Linked DNA regions of Homo sapiens: region 2 is linked to region 1. A link means that fine-mapping ties the variant in region 1 to the expression of a gene that starts in the linked region. Tissue or cell type: whole blood. Region 1 holds a variant in brackets; the other region holds the start of a gene. All regions are shown on one strand. Distances are from middle to middle.

Region 1 (8,260 bases):
AGGACCCTTGTCTTCCAGGGCACTCATTTGTTCACTCTTTCACACATGAGCACCTACTATGTGCAAGTTACTGTACAAGGCCTGGGGGTGGCAGGGAAGGTAAGGGGCAAATTCATAGAAATGAGTCAAAGATATTGGTTTTGTTCACCCTGTGCCTGCCTGACATACTGTGGATGTTCAAAAAATATTTGTTGTAGAAAAGAAGAAAGAAGGGAGTGATGGTAAGTGATGCTATCCCTGCCCTCAGGGAATCTAAGATCTACTCCAGGGCTGTTTCTGCTATGCCAGGCTCTTCCCAAGTAAAAAGGTGCCCTTATGCCAGCAAGGCCCTCCTGCTGCCTTCCAGGCAGAAACCAAAGCTCTGAGGATGTGAAAATGAGACGAAAAGCAAGGCTACTCGTCACTGAATGGCTGTGAGGGCAAAGGAATTTCCCCACCCTAAGACAGCTCTCGGAGAGGAGCAGGCAGGCCTTCTGCGGTCAGAGCCTGAAAGGCTGGGGCTGTGGAAGTTCCCCAGGGCTGGCTGCGGGCTGCTGAGAAGGCCCTGACTGCCCTCTGCCCTTCCACTGTTGTCACCTGCAGAGGAAACAGCTGCAGGACTGCAGTCTCCCCGCCTCTAAGGCCAGCTCAAGGTCAGCCACAGCTCCCAGGCCTCGAGTGCTAGGTCACCATAACCCTCCCAGACCACTTCTGTCCATCTCTGGGGTTCATGGGGCCTTCACCACATACCAGGCTTAGTGCTAGGCCTGTGGATACAGGAAGAGCCCGCCTGAGGGCAGAGTCAGACAGAAGTGGATAATTAAGAGTCCTCCTACAAGGCAGTGCCTCTGTGTGGTGACTCTGGGCCTGCCTAATCTTATTTTGAACCCTGGCATGGCCAATTGTTAGCCTGTAAACTTAAGAAGCTGATCAATCTCTAAGCCTCACTTTCCTCACCTGTAGAATGGGTAATGATGACATCAACCTTGTAAAATTTTACACAAATCAGAAATAACATAATATCAAGATCTGACCTAAATAGCTATTCAATTAATGACATTACTGGTGCCTATACTCAATGCCTCAAGAACACAGAGGGAAATATGTGGGGTGGAGGCAGGAAGCAGCATTCAAGAAAGCAACAGGCCGAGTGCAGTGGCTCGTGACTGTAATCCCAACACTTTGGGAGGGTAAGGCTGGAGGACTGCTTGAGTCCAGGAGTTTGAGAGATCAGCCTGGGCAACACAGCAAGACCCTGTTTCTACAAAAAATAATTTAAAAAGAAAGCAAGGGGCCAGGCACAGTGGCTCACACCTGTAATTCCAGCACTTTGGGAGGCTGAGGCGGGCGGATCACCGGAGGTCGGGAGTTTGAGATCAGCCTGACCAACATGGAGAAACTCCATCTCTACTAAAAATACAAAATTAGGGTGCATGGTGGTGCATGCCCATAATCCCAGCTACTCGGGAGGCTGAGGCAGGAGAATCGCTTGAACCCGAGAGGCAGAGGTTGTGGTGAGCCGAGATCTCACCACTGCACTCCAGCCTGGGCAACAAGAGCAAAACCCTGTCTTAAAAAAAAAAAAAAGCAAGCAACAAAAGAAGTAACAGCAAAGCTGGATCAGAAAGAATGAGCACTCTGGCTCACCACGGCAGGCGGGGACAGCACAAGCACAAGCAAACGCACTGAGGCATCCAGTGCACAGCGTGGCTGGGGGTGCCAGGGACCAGTAGGAGAAGAGCAGTGGCTGGGGTAGACTGCAGCTTGCCTTAATCTCATGAGTGAGTTTTCAAGAAGATAGAAGAGGGGCTGGGCACGGTGGATCATGCCTGTAATCCCAGCACTTTGGGAGGCTGAGGCAGGTGGATCACCTGAGGTCAGAAGTTCAAGACCAGCCTGGCCAACATGGTGAAACCCCATCTCTACTAAAGATACAAAAATTAGCCAGGCATGGTGGTGCATGCCTGTAATCGCAGCTACTTGGGAGGCTGAGGCAGGAGAGTCACTTGAACCCAGGAGGTGGAGGCTGCAGTAAGCTGAGATCACACCATTGCACTCCAGCCTGGGTGACAGAGCGAGACTCTGTCTCAAAAAATAAATAAATAAATAAATAAATAAATAAATAATATACATAATATATTAAATATGTTAAATATATTATACATATTAAATATATGTTAAATACATATTATGCATATTAAATATAGATGTAAAATGTATATTATACATATTAAATATGTTAAATATATTATACATATTAAATATGTTATATATTATACATATGTAGTAAATATATAAATGTATATTTTATATATATATATATATATTTTTTTTGAGACAGAGTCTCACTCTGTCGCCCAGGCTGGAGTGCAGTGGCGCCATCTCGGCTCACTGCAAGCTCCGCCTCCCAGGTTCACACCATTCTCCTGCCTCAGCCTCCCGAGTAGCTGGGACTACAGGTGGCCGCCACCACACCCAGCTAATTTTTTTTGTATTTTTTTTAGTAGAGATGGGGCTTCACCTTGTTAGCCAGGATGGTCTCGATCTCCTGACCTTGTGATCCACCTGCTTCGGCCTCCCAATGTGCTGGGATTACAGGCATGAGCCACTGCGCCCAGCTGCATTTAATATATATTTAATGTATATGAAATATATATATTATACATATATATTTAAAGATGAGCCATTTAGGAGGAAAATACTAAAGAAATGAAGGTACAGCCAGATGCGGTGGCTCATGCCTGTAATCCCAGCACTTTGGGAGGCTGAGACGGGCGGATCACAAGGTCAGGAGATCGAGACCATCCTGGCTAACACAGTGAAACCCCGTCTCTACTAAAAATACGAAAAATTAGCTGGGCGTGGTAGCAGGTGCCTGTAGTCCCAGCTACTCGGGAGGCTGAGGCAGGAGAATGGCATGAACCTGGGAGGCAGAGGTTGCAGTGAGCTGAGATTGTGCCACTGCACTCCAGCCTGGGCAACGGAGCAAGACTCCGTCTCAAAAAAAAAAAAAAGAAAAAAAGAAAAAAAAAGAAATGAAGGTACAAGGCGGGATGCAGAAGGAAAAATCACAAAGGCTGGACTCATATCACTGATATGCTGAGGGCACCAGAGAGTCACCCAAATTCTGTGGGGTTTGTGGGGGGACAGGGCAGGGGTGGGGAGAACAAATTTGGGATCTTGGAGAGATAACTACAATTGAAGGGAAAGGCCCAGTCAGGGCCTGTTCTGCAGAGCCCTGAGCCAGTTCAGGTGGAACACGAGGCAGGTCTGTCCAGGGGAAGTGGGCAGAGACGTCCTGGAGACAAAGGAGATGGGGTCTGGGAGCTGGTGTATGGCAGTGGAGAGAGACGCAGCCTCTGTGTCCGTCATGTGAACTGTAACAGGGTCTAAGTGAGCATCTGTCACTTGGATTTGGATGTCTCTATCACCTCCCATCAGACCAGGAGCTTCTGGGAGCAATATTGCTCTTCCCAACTGCCTAGAGCCTGCAGGGTGAGCCAGCTGCACAGCCCACCAGCCGGCAAGACAGGATCTCAGATGAGGGTGACCGAGTGCCCTGATTTTCCTGGGATTGAGTGGTTTCCTAAGACAGGAGACTTTCCAGGTGGTCCTGGGTAAACTGGGAGGAGCTGGTCACTCTACCTCAGACTGTCCCCACAGGGCAGGAGCCCTGGGCCAGACCTGTTGGGCTGGAGTTGCTGGGCTGGGGTGCCAAAGGGAAAAGCCCACACTGTCTACATGAGCCTAGGACCAGGTAATCAGTTCATGCTCACATGAACAGCACCACCTGCCTCAGAGACAGCTCCCAACCTTCTGGAAAAGGTTCAGTGATCTTAGTCCTGATCATTTTCGGGGAAATATGTTTTTGGTTTTTTTTGTTTTTTGAGACGGAGTCTTGCTCTGTCACCAGGCTGGAGTGCAATGGCGCAACCTTGGCTCACTGCAACCTCCGACTCCCTGGTTCAAGCGATTATTCTGCCTCAGCCTCCTGAGTAGCTGGGATTACAGGCACACGCCACCATGCCCAGCTAATTTTTGTATTTTTACTAGAGACAGGGTTTCACCATGTTGGCCAGGATGGTCTCAATCTCCTGACCTTGTGATCCGCCCGCCTCGGCCTCCCAAAGTGCTGGGATTACAGGCGTGAGCCACTGTGCCAGCCCTGGGAAATATGTTTTACTTTAATTAGTTAGAAGTCTCCTGGTCACACCCAAAAATTTGGCTTCTATTCAAGTTTGAGAATTCAAAGGCCTCCAAAATGCCACTTTTGCACTTTGCACCTGTTCGCCAAGAAAAGTCTTAGGGACATTCAGCGCCCTACAAGATTGATTCCACCCCATCCTTCCAACTGGAATATCTCTAATATCCCTAACTATCTGAAGTGCTCCTCATATTCTAGCCAAC[G/A]TGGCCTGCTCAGTGGCCCGTTCCCATCCCTCCTCCTTCCCTCTGCCACTCTCTCTTCCCTCAGCTTTGTCTGCCTGAAGGGCTGCCTCCGCACAGCTCCTGTGCTTGAATTCCACCCAAACTTAAAGACTTAGCTCAAGCATCACTTCTCCAGGAAGCTTCTCCAGTCCCCCAGGCAGAAGATGCTCCTGACTCCTCTGACCCTCTTCTAAAGCCTGATCTCACTGGCAGTGGCTGGTCAGGGCTCCCACCTGGGGCCAACTTGTCTGGAACCCATGAGAGTAAGCTCCTATCAGATTCATTGTTGGCCCCCACCTGCCTTCACTCTGCTGTCAGGGGTCAGCATATAGAATTAACACACAAATGAACAAACCCATGATGCCCAACTGGGAGATGTCCTGACTGTTTCCTCACCTGTCACCCTGACAGAGCAAGGAGGGCCTTCACAGAAGCTCACCTATTCTTCAGTCATTCATTTACTCATTTAGCCAACGTCACTGAGCCTTCTACATGGCGACAAGGTGAACAAGATGCTGGAATTCCATGCCCTCACAGGCCAGCAGAAAGGATGATTTTGTAATGACCACCGTTGCAGCACAGGTTCAGAGAAGGAAGGAGAAGGTGCTCTGGGAATGTGCAATGGAAGGCCTGGCCCAACTGGGGTCAAGAAGGCTTCCCAGAGCACAGGAAACAAGTGGAGAAGAGGATGAAGGAGATGTGTCCCTGCTGCCATCTCAGAAGAGAAAGCAAGGGGTTTGGGAGTGAAAGGCACACACTCTGTCTCTGCTTCTTTATCCTGGCCCTGTGATCACCTGCCTCCGTTTCTCCATCAGTACAATTGGTTAACAGGGTCGCCCTCACTGGGCTGTTGTGAAGATTTGTGGGGATAATAGATGGAAAGCACTCAGCACACGGCCAAGCTCTTTCCAAGAAGGGGATTACTGCTGTCACTGTGATCCACGCAGCTCACAGGAGGCCGAGGATTCCAGGCAGCCAGACCTCTGGGTCCGGCTGAGCTGGACAATAATCCTGCCTCATGATTAGCCCTGACCAGAAGGGGAGGAAGAACGGGGCACAGCTGGGCCTCCCCAGCTGCCAGGTGGGCCAGCCCAGGTCAGACCGTGGGATCCTGAAGGAGTGGCCAGGGACCCAGAGTTTGAAGGGGTAGGACGCTGGATGTAGGTGAGAGGAGGTGGCCCTCGCAGGCGTGGCTGAGGATGGGGCTGGGCAGAGGAATGAGACAAAGAGCAGACAGAGCCCAGAGAACATCCTCTCCAGCTGCTCGCCCTCCCTCCCTCCCTGCTGCACAGAGTATTAGTGAAATGATTTCTAGCGATGGATGCAGCAGGGCTCTGACATTTACAGGCCACTAGATGTCTTCAGGGCCAGCTGGGTGTTTAAAAGCCTGTGTGAACACCATGCTGTTAGGGGAAGGAGCTAACCACGGACCGGAAACCCCCGAGGTGTGCAAGTAGCCACGTCACTTCTCAGCAGGAAGAGCTGGGGTGCAGCAAGCTGAGATTAGGGACCTGGCCCAGTACCCCGCCACCCCGGAACCCACACAGCAGTCTGAAAGGAATCAAGGGCCACCTGGGCTGCCTGGGAGCACAGGGTCTTTCCAGCCACTGCCGTTCCTCACACACGCCCAGGCTGTTTGCCACTCTGGGCTTTGGCCTTACTTTTCCCAGATCCCCGTATTTCTACCACACTCATCTCCAGTGCCGCCTCCTCCTAGAGGTCTCCCCTGACCACCTGACCTAAACTAGCCCACTCCCCAACACCTACTGGGCTCTTCCCTAGATAACCCCACCGTCAAGCCCTCATCTGTTCAGGCCGGTGCTTCTTTGCTCAGATGTCACCTCCTTCACAAGATGTTCCCTGGCCACCCTATGTAAAATCACACACCCTCCCTGTAGCCTTCATCCTCCTTCCCTCCTTTCTTCTCTGTCTGATATCCTAGATATTTAATTATTTGTTATTTATTGTCTCTTTCCTCCTCCTCAACTGTCAAGCTCCATGAGGACAGGGACTATTGTCAGTTTTGTTCACTGCTGTATCACATCTAGAAAAGTGCCTGGCACATAGTAGGGGGTCAATAAATGTTTGATGAGTGAATGAATAAGTGTATATGAATGTTTAAGAGCAGGTGCTCTAGACTGAGGTCTCATCTCAGCTCTTCTACTTACTTTGTGATCTTGGACCCTCTTTTGCCTTGATTTAATTAATCAGTAAAAGGAGAATGACAACAGTACCTACCTCATAGGATTACTGGGGGATTAAATAAGATCATGCATATAAAGAGCTTAAAACAGTGCCTAGCCCCCAGGAACTACTCAGCTCCACGCTGGCTGCCATCGGGGCCTTTGCTGGCTGGCCAGCATTTCTTGCTTACTTATTTGCTCACTTGTTGATCATCTGTCTCCCTCTGTGCCAGTGTCAGCTCCAGCCTGCCTTGCTCACGACTGCATCCCCAGTTCCTAGTATAGTTTTGGAAGAGAAAACCAGGCCTCCTCCCAAGTCAGGGAATGTGGAGCTATGGAGACCCAGCTTCAGCTGGGAGTAGAAACCTCACCGATCTGTTTCTCCAGGGCGGCTGCTTCACAGACAGTGGCCCGGGGCAGGATCCCAGGGTCGGTGAAGCTTGTCTGCAGCAGGCAGCTCATGACGAAGAAGAAGAGGATGGCAGCGATGATGGGGATGGCAAGGGTCAGCTTGCGAGCCAGGTAGGGACAGCTAGAACGAGAGATGGAGAGAGATCAGCAGACACCCCAAGGGCTCCCTGCGGCACAGGGCTACAGCACGTGGCAGGCGCTGTCATTCCAACAACCACCACCAAAATCTTGAATACAGCCTCGCTCTGAGGCAGAGGCACAGCTCCTTGATGAGTGCAGCCACTCCCCAATAAGTACCGGGAACAGACATCACTAATTGATCCTTGTGATATACTTTCCTCCAGAGCACATGGCAGATGTGTCCAATAGATCCCAGCACTCCTAACCTCTGCATCCAGAGAATCCCTCTACACACAGAGCTTCAGGCAGACACTAGTGGACTGTCACCTGAGACAAACCATCCTGCAGTGTTCATTCACTCATTCATTCACTCACTCAGTCCACAAATATTTACTGAGGTCTTCTCTGTGGCAGGCAACACCTTCAATAAGCAGCAGGAATAATGACGACGGATAAGACAAGAGTCCCTCCCCCTTGTGGCTTATGGTCTAGTGGGGAAAACAAGACATGTAAACAGGGAATTGCCACACAGGGTGATGTGTGCTCTAGTGGGGGAGGGGAACGCAGTAGCACAGTCAGGAAAGGCAACCTGAAGGAGACAATCCTAAGCTCCAACCTGAAGAATGAGTAGAGGGCTGGGGGAACTGCATGGTCCAGCCACTGTCACTGTGACCCAAGGTAGGCAGGTATCCCCAAGGCAGTGCTTTCAGACCCCCTGACCCTGGCTGCCTCAGAGAATAGCCTGTGCCTGCTGAATGGTCATGCCTCTGTCCCCCAGGGAGGCTGCCTACCACAGCCCTCTTCAAGCTCCCTCCTCCATCTTAGGGCTAGAACATTCTAGAAGTTCTGGACACTGGTGGGAGAATGGCTTCATGATAGTGAAGCTATCAGGGCTCTCTCTCTATGGCCAATCCTCTCTGTTGTCACCTCACTGTCCACCCAGAAGCCAGAGCCACTTTTGGAAATGTCAATCAGATCATGTCATTTCCCTGCTTAAAACCTCCCAATTGCTTTCCATATAGTTTGAATACAATCCAAACTCCCTACCATGGCCTTCTAGGCCAGGCATGATCTGGGCCCTACTGAGGACTTCAGCCTCATTCTACAAAACTCTCGTCTTGCTCCTGCTCCTCCCATCACAA
Region 2 (6,547 bases), 28 kb before region 1:
TGGGCGACAGAGCGAGAATCTGTCTTAAAAAAAAAAAAAAAGCTAACATTTGTTGAGTCTGTCCTATGGGTTACTTTACAGCAACTATAAAAGGAAGGTACTGTTTTTCAGTTCCCCTGTTTATAAATGAGGACACAAAGGTAAGCAAGATTAAGAGCCTTGGCCAAGGCAGGCTGGGAGTCAAACCCAGGCTGTCTGAGTCCAAAATCGCAAATTTTCTCTTTTTCTTGGGTGGGGGGACCGAGTCTCGCTCTGTCGCCCAGGCTGGAGTGCAGTGGCGTGATCTCGGCTCACTGCAAGCTCCGCCTCCTGGGCTCATGCCATTCTCCTACCTCAGCCTCCCGAGTAGCTGGTACTACAGGTGCCCGCCATCACTCCCGGCTAATTTTTTGTATTTTTAGTAGAGACGGGGTTTCATTGTGATAGCCAGGATGGCCTCGATCTCCTGACCTCGTGATACGCCCGCCTCGGCCTCCCAGAGTGCTGGGATTACAGGCGTGAGCCACCGCGCCCGGCCAAAACCGCCATTTTCACTCTTGTGTTAGCCTTTAGTCCAAGCCCCTTATGATACAAGAGGGAAACTGAGGCCCAGGGAGGTATAACGGCTTTTCCAAGGTCGCACAGCCAGCCAGGGACACAATCCAAGCCTCTCGGCGACAGGTCCAGGGCTGCTTGGATTTCGGAGTGTGGTGGGGGCATCTTGGCGGCCTTTTTCCAGCCAACCCCCGCGGCCGGCCCGGCCCAGGCCCAGCCGGGTGAGCTGATGACTCAACGGGCAAGCACTGCATTTTGCGATCCTGGCTCGTCCCGCTGCTCTAGAGGGTTCCCAGCTCTCGGGCCGGACGGGCGGCAACTTGTCTGAGTGAAACCGGGAAAGCTCCGCCCCTCGGCGCTCAGCGGGCGGCGGGGGCGCCTCTCAGTCAGTCAGCGAGTCGTGGTGTCCGCCAGGCCTGGCGGGCGGCGGGAAACTCGCCGCGCGCGTTCCGCCGCTCACTTTCCCATTGGCCAGTCAGGCCCCCGGGGCGGTACCCTGGGGCAGCTCCCTCCTGTGATTGGGCGGTATTGGCCTCGGGCCCCGCCTCCAGTCCAGGGCTGCGAAGGCGGGACGGAGCAAGGCGGCTGCAGGTTCCGGCGTGTTGCTGGCTGCAGAGAGCTCAGGCAGCGGGCTCGGTAGGCACAGCTCCCAGCGGCCCTTCCCACCCAGCTCGTCCTTCCTCCCCTTCAGCCCGTTTCCTTTTGTCTCCATCTCCGAACTCTGTGGGACGTGACCCTCTCCTAAGATCTAGGCTTTTTTGGCGGCGCTATACCCCTTCCTCAGATCGTACTCCCCTCCGCTGAGATCTGAGCCCTTGATGAAACTGTGACCCGCCTGCAAATCGGGTGCTCAGTGCCGCTCACTACTGCGGCGCTGTCCTTAGATCTCACGCCGGAGACTTCACTATTTCCTGCCCCGCTCCACCAGAGCTCGTCAGCCTCCCGCGCCGTGGCTCCCACTCACCTCCCCTCAGCCCGGCAGAGGAGCCACGGCGCCTCCTGTGGGTTCACCCGACCCTCCCGGTCCCGTCCAGTTTGACTGGGGCCGCCGTGATGGAGAGAGCCGGACCCCGGCCTCACCTGGACTCAAAGTCTTGCGTGCGGGCCACTGAGCCACCTAGGGAGTTCAGGGCCCTAACTCAGAGGTCCAAAGTCAGGGTCTCTAAGTCAGATTCCAGTCCCACTCCCAGCCCATCGCCAAGAACTGGAAGAGAGACAGGAGGAGTGTCACAGGGGAACTTTATTGAGAGGAAACATGGTCACACCCAGCAGACATGCTTTCCCTCAATCTCGGTCTTGCACTGGCGCGCGCGCACACACACACACACACACACACACACACACACACCCATCTCCAGCCCCTGCCACTGTCCAGTTCTCAGCCACAAGGCGGGACACTCCTCAATTCCTACGATCAGAGGCAGCAGGGGCAGGAGGGAGGCAAGAGGAGGGGAGAAGTAGCCTGGTCCTGGGGTCGGGAGGAAGCGGGTGCGGAGAGCAGGGGTGGGGGCATGACCAGTGGTTAGGTGCGCTCAACAGCTGCAAGAAGAGTGGGATCCCCAGCCCCAGGTGGCCTCAGCTCTGCCAGTCCCTCTCCACGGAGCCCTTTGGAGCAAGAACAGCGCCTAGGGGAGAAGGGTGGGGCCTCCCACCCCATACTAGTCCTCTCGGCAGGGTGGGGGACTGGAGGGGGCAGGGCGGGGCGGTGGCGGGCAACACTCAGCTCTGGGGCTCCTGGGGAGCCTCGCCCCCCTCTTCCCCGGCGTTGTCGGCCGTCCACAGTGTCAGGTTGTCTCGCAGCAGCTGCATGATGAGGGTGCTGTCTTTGTAGGAGTCCTCGCTGAGGGTGTGCAGATCAGCCATGGCCTCGTCGAAAGTGGTCTTGGCCAGAGAGATGGCCTCCTCGGGGCTGTTGGCGATCTCGTAGTGGAAGACGGAAAAGTTCAGGGCCAGGCCCAGGCGGATGGGGTTGGTGGGCGGCATCTCCTTCTTGCTGATGTCCATGGCCTCCTGGTAGGCTGACCGGGCTGAGTCAATGATGCGCTTCTTGTCGTCACCGGTGGCCACCTCGGCCAGGTAGCGGTAGTAGTCACCCTTCATCTTCAGGTAGAAGACCCGGCTCTCGGCGTCCCCGGCCTCCTTGATGAGGTGGCTGTCCAGCAGGCCCAGCACGGTGTCGCACACGCCCTGGAGCTCAGTCTCCACCTTCTCCCGGTACTCACGCACCTCGGGCCCCTTCTCCTCCGAGCCCTCCTCGTTGCTTTTCTGCTCAATACTGGACAGCACCCTCCAGGCAGCCCTCTGGCCGCCCACCACGTTCTTATAGGCTACTGAGAGCAGGTTTCGCTCTTCGCAGGAGAGCTCCTCGCCCTTCTCCACGGCGCCTTTCATGAAGGCTGCCATGTCCTCATAGCGTTCGGCCTGCTCTGCCAGCTTGGCCTTCTGGATCAGACTGGCTCTCTCCATGGCTCTGGGGACACACAGGCGGGCGGCGGGCTAACTGCTGCCTGGGACCAATGCCGGACTCTGTGTCTCTCCTGCTCTTGGCCTGCCTTTTGGCTGGGTGGCCAGGCCCAGAGAAGGGTGGGGAGGAGCAGGGGGCGGGACCAGGGCCCAAGACCTGCCTCCCTCTCCTCTCTTCCCCACACCCTTTCCGGCTCTGCAGTAAAGGTAAAAAGGCTGGGATGTGGGGGTGAATCATCAGAACAGTCAGCAGGAGAAATCTGGGCGTGGGCCCCACCTGCACTGGCACCTTTCCAGGCTCCAGGCTGCCCCCTCTTGTTCGGGGCTGGCATCACATGGCTGCCCACATCAGGAAACGGCTTCTCAAATCAGATCCACTTTCACAGTGCCCTTCCAGGGGCTAAGGACGGCTTTAGCCCCTGGCTGCTTCAGCCTCGACAGAGCCCATAAAGGTTCAGGAGGATGGGGTTCCTAATCCTGCCAGGTAACTTCCCCCCTTGGTTCAGGTGAGGATAACTCATGTTTAGGTAGGGCCATGGAGTTTCCCAAGCACTTTCATATTCACGATCGAATTTAATCCCCACCATGTCTCTGTGACACACACAGGACCATAGAGATGGGAACACTAAGTCTCAGAGAGGGGTGAGATTTGCTCAAAGTCACATAGCCACCAATTCCCTGAAACTCCTTTCTGCACCCTCTTCCTTTAGCTTTTCTCCCATTGAGGCCTCTGACCTATGAGCTCCAGACTGTGTTTGGAAGTGAGATCCAGGCTCCTTCTCAGTCTACCTGAAGATGGTTCCATCCTCCAGGCCTCATTCCCCCTCAGGGTCCCCTCTGAGCTCCCAGAATGCGCAGGTGGCAGCTTTCAGAGTGCCGCTTAATGAAGTGTTTAACAAGCAGCCTCTGAAGCTCCAGCCCAGCCTTTGTAATTAGTCACCCAGTAGGTTTGTTGGACACATTTCCCATCACTACACAATTTTCCCTTTCAAGTTGGTGGCCTGTTGCCACTTGTTTGAGGATTTACCCTCTGGCCCTCCACGCCAGGTCACCTGCCCTCTCCAAGCCACATGCCATCAGGTACCAGCGGGGCTCACAGAGGGTGGGGTCCAGCTCCCCGGCTGTCCCACTTTCCTGCCTGACTCAGACTGCTCTCTGTCTGAGGCTGGGAAGCAGTCCAGTTTGATCCCCCAGGGGGGACGCTAGCAACCTGGGGAGAGAGAGGACTGAGAAAGGGAGGTGGCAGTGACACATACCATTCTGTTTTATGGGGCAGCAATTCCAGCTACGTGATGCCTCCCCCAGCCTGTTTCTCAGAAGTTTACTTGTTCTTTCCTTTTTTTTTTTTTTAAATAGAGAGCAGATCTCACTACATTGCCCAGGCAGGTCTCAAACTCCTGGGCTCAAGCGATCCTCCTGCCTCAGCCTCCCAAAGTGCTGGGATTATGGGCATGAGCCACTGTGCCTGGCCTGTTCCTTCCTTTTGACCATTGCCCCATCTCTGACCCCTGGCAGAGTCCTCAGAGATGGAGACCTCTGTTGCCAACGTTCTTTCCCTGCTTGCCGGAGCCCTGGCCTCAAGTTTCATCAAGAGTTTCACCTAAGGGTGTTGGCATTGAGCCTATAGGGATGGATTCCTGCTTATCTGCCCCACCCATAGCCAAAGCTTAGATGGGGCTCAGAGGTAGGGCTCCCTTCACTGGGATTCTGCCGACCTAATAGTTGAGCCAGGATAATTTCACAGGCCTGTGTCTCCCCCAGCTACTCTGAGTGTCTGAACACTCATCTTCCCTCCTGGAGGGAGGCTTAGGCCAGAACTCTGGGGACCAAAGACGAGATCCTTCTCTTTGCCACAAGGAGGAGTAGGGACATGTCTGGGCTAATGCTACAGGGTTTCCAAGGAAGTAAAGGGGATTTTAAGTTTGACGTCCCAAAGATTTTGCTCAAATCAGAGAACTGACACAGAAAACAATAGGAACCACACTAAAATACCAACTTCTAGAGGGTATCTTGAGGTAGTGAGAGTGAGTGATTTTGCTTCCCTTTGATTTTCTTTCTTCTCAATTTCCTTTTTAGAGATAGGGTCTTACTCTGATGTCCAGGCTGAAGTACAGTGGTATGATCACAGCTCACTGCAGTCTCAACCTCCTTGGCCTCAGGTGATCCTCCTGCCTCAGCTTCCTAAGAATAAGGTGCTCACCACAACGCCCAGCTAATTTTTGTATTTTTTTGTAGAGACAGGGTCTCACCATGTTGCCCAGGCTGGTCTCGAACTTCTGGGTTCAAGCAATCCTCCTGCCTTGGCTTCCCAAAGTGCTGGGATTACAGGTGTGAGTCACTACACCTGGCCCTTTTGATTTTCTTATTCTCTCCAATTTATAAATAGTGAATATAGGTCGGACGCGGTGGCTCACGCCTGTCATCTCAGCACTTTGGGAGGCTGAGGTGGGTGGATCACAAGGTCAGGAGATCGAGACCATTCTGGCTAACCCAGGAAAACCCTGTCTCTACTAAAAATACAAAAAATTAGCCGGGCATGGTGGCACATGCCTGTAGTCCCAGCTACTCGGGAGGCTGAGGCAGGAGAATCGCTTGAACCCGGGAGGCGGAGCTTGCAGTGAGCCGAGATGGCGCCACTGCACTCCAGCCTGGGTGACAGAGCAAGACTCCGTCTCAAAACAAAACAACAACAAAAAAGTGAATATGTATTGTTTGTCTATGAGATACAGAATAGACTAGTATCTTTGGAATCAGACTGCCTAAATGTAATTCTTATAGCTGTTTGTGGCCTTGGCCAAGTGATTTAAGCTCTGTGAGCCTCAGTTCCTGTAACTATAAAATGGGACTTGTGAGGATTACACGAGTTAATGGAAAGCACAGTAGAATGGATGGCAACTATTATTATTATTATTTTCTTTTTTTTGAGACGGAGTTTCGCTCTTGTCACCCAGGCTGGAGTGTAGTGGCACAATCTCAGCTCACTGCAACCTCCACCTCCTGGGTTCAAGTGATTCTCCTGCCTCAGCCTCCCGAGTAGCTGGGATTACAAGGGTGCACCACCACACCCAGCTAATTTTTGTATTTTTTTTTTTTTTAAGTAGAGATGTGGTTTCACCATGTTGGCCAGGCTGGTCTCGAACAGCTGACCTCAAGTGATCCACCTGCCTCAGCCTTCCAAAGTGCTGAAATTATAGGCATAAGCCACCATGCCCGGCCAGATGACAACTATTATTATCATGTGAAAAAATCCCGTCAACTTTATTATGATCAACATATACTCACAAAGCACTAACATAGAGTTAGGTTCTGTGAAATGAGGAAGGACCCCAAGCCAGGACTTAGCCAAAGGCCAGACCTTCCCAGCTGGGTGTCTACAGGGGAGAGGAAGCAGTTTGCCCATAGCCTTCTCTCTCCAGATGGATGAATGGCCAGATGTGCTCAGCACTGCCTCCTTCCTCTCCATCTAGGACAGGCGTGTCCAATCTTTTGGCTTCCCTGGGCCACATTGGAAGAATTGTCTTGGGCCACACATAAAATATACCAACACTAC

Evidence for each region. PIP is the estimated chance that this variant, and not a neighbour inherited with it, causes the effect.
Region 2: SFN starts here. The variant in region 1 is fine-mapped to the expression of SFN in whole blood (TOPMed, PIP above 0.99).

What each region holds. Positions count from the first base shown.
Region 1 is chr1:26,831,306-26,839,565 of GRCh38, reverse strand. It overlaps ZDHHC18 (zDHHC palmitoyltransferase 18), which reads right to left. Exons shown (of 8, transcript NM_032283.3): 2 at 6,959-7,119. Among named protein-coding and RNA genes, the nearest start is that of ZDHHC18, 8.7 kb to the right of the region's middle. RefSeq lists enhancers at 117-436, 597-866, 5,738-5,837. The variant G/A (reference allele first, on the strand shown) is at 4,387.
Region 2 is chr1:26,859,666-26,866,212 of GRCh38, reverse strand. SFN (stratifin) reads right to left here and starts at 3,064. Exons shown (of 1, transcript NM_006142.5): 1 at 1,757-3,064. The coding sequence starts at 3,000. The coding sequence ends at 2,254. RefSeq lists enhancers at 706-1,015, 1,226-1,355, 2,500-3,379 and a silencer at 3,249-3,398.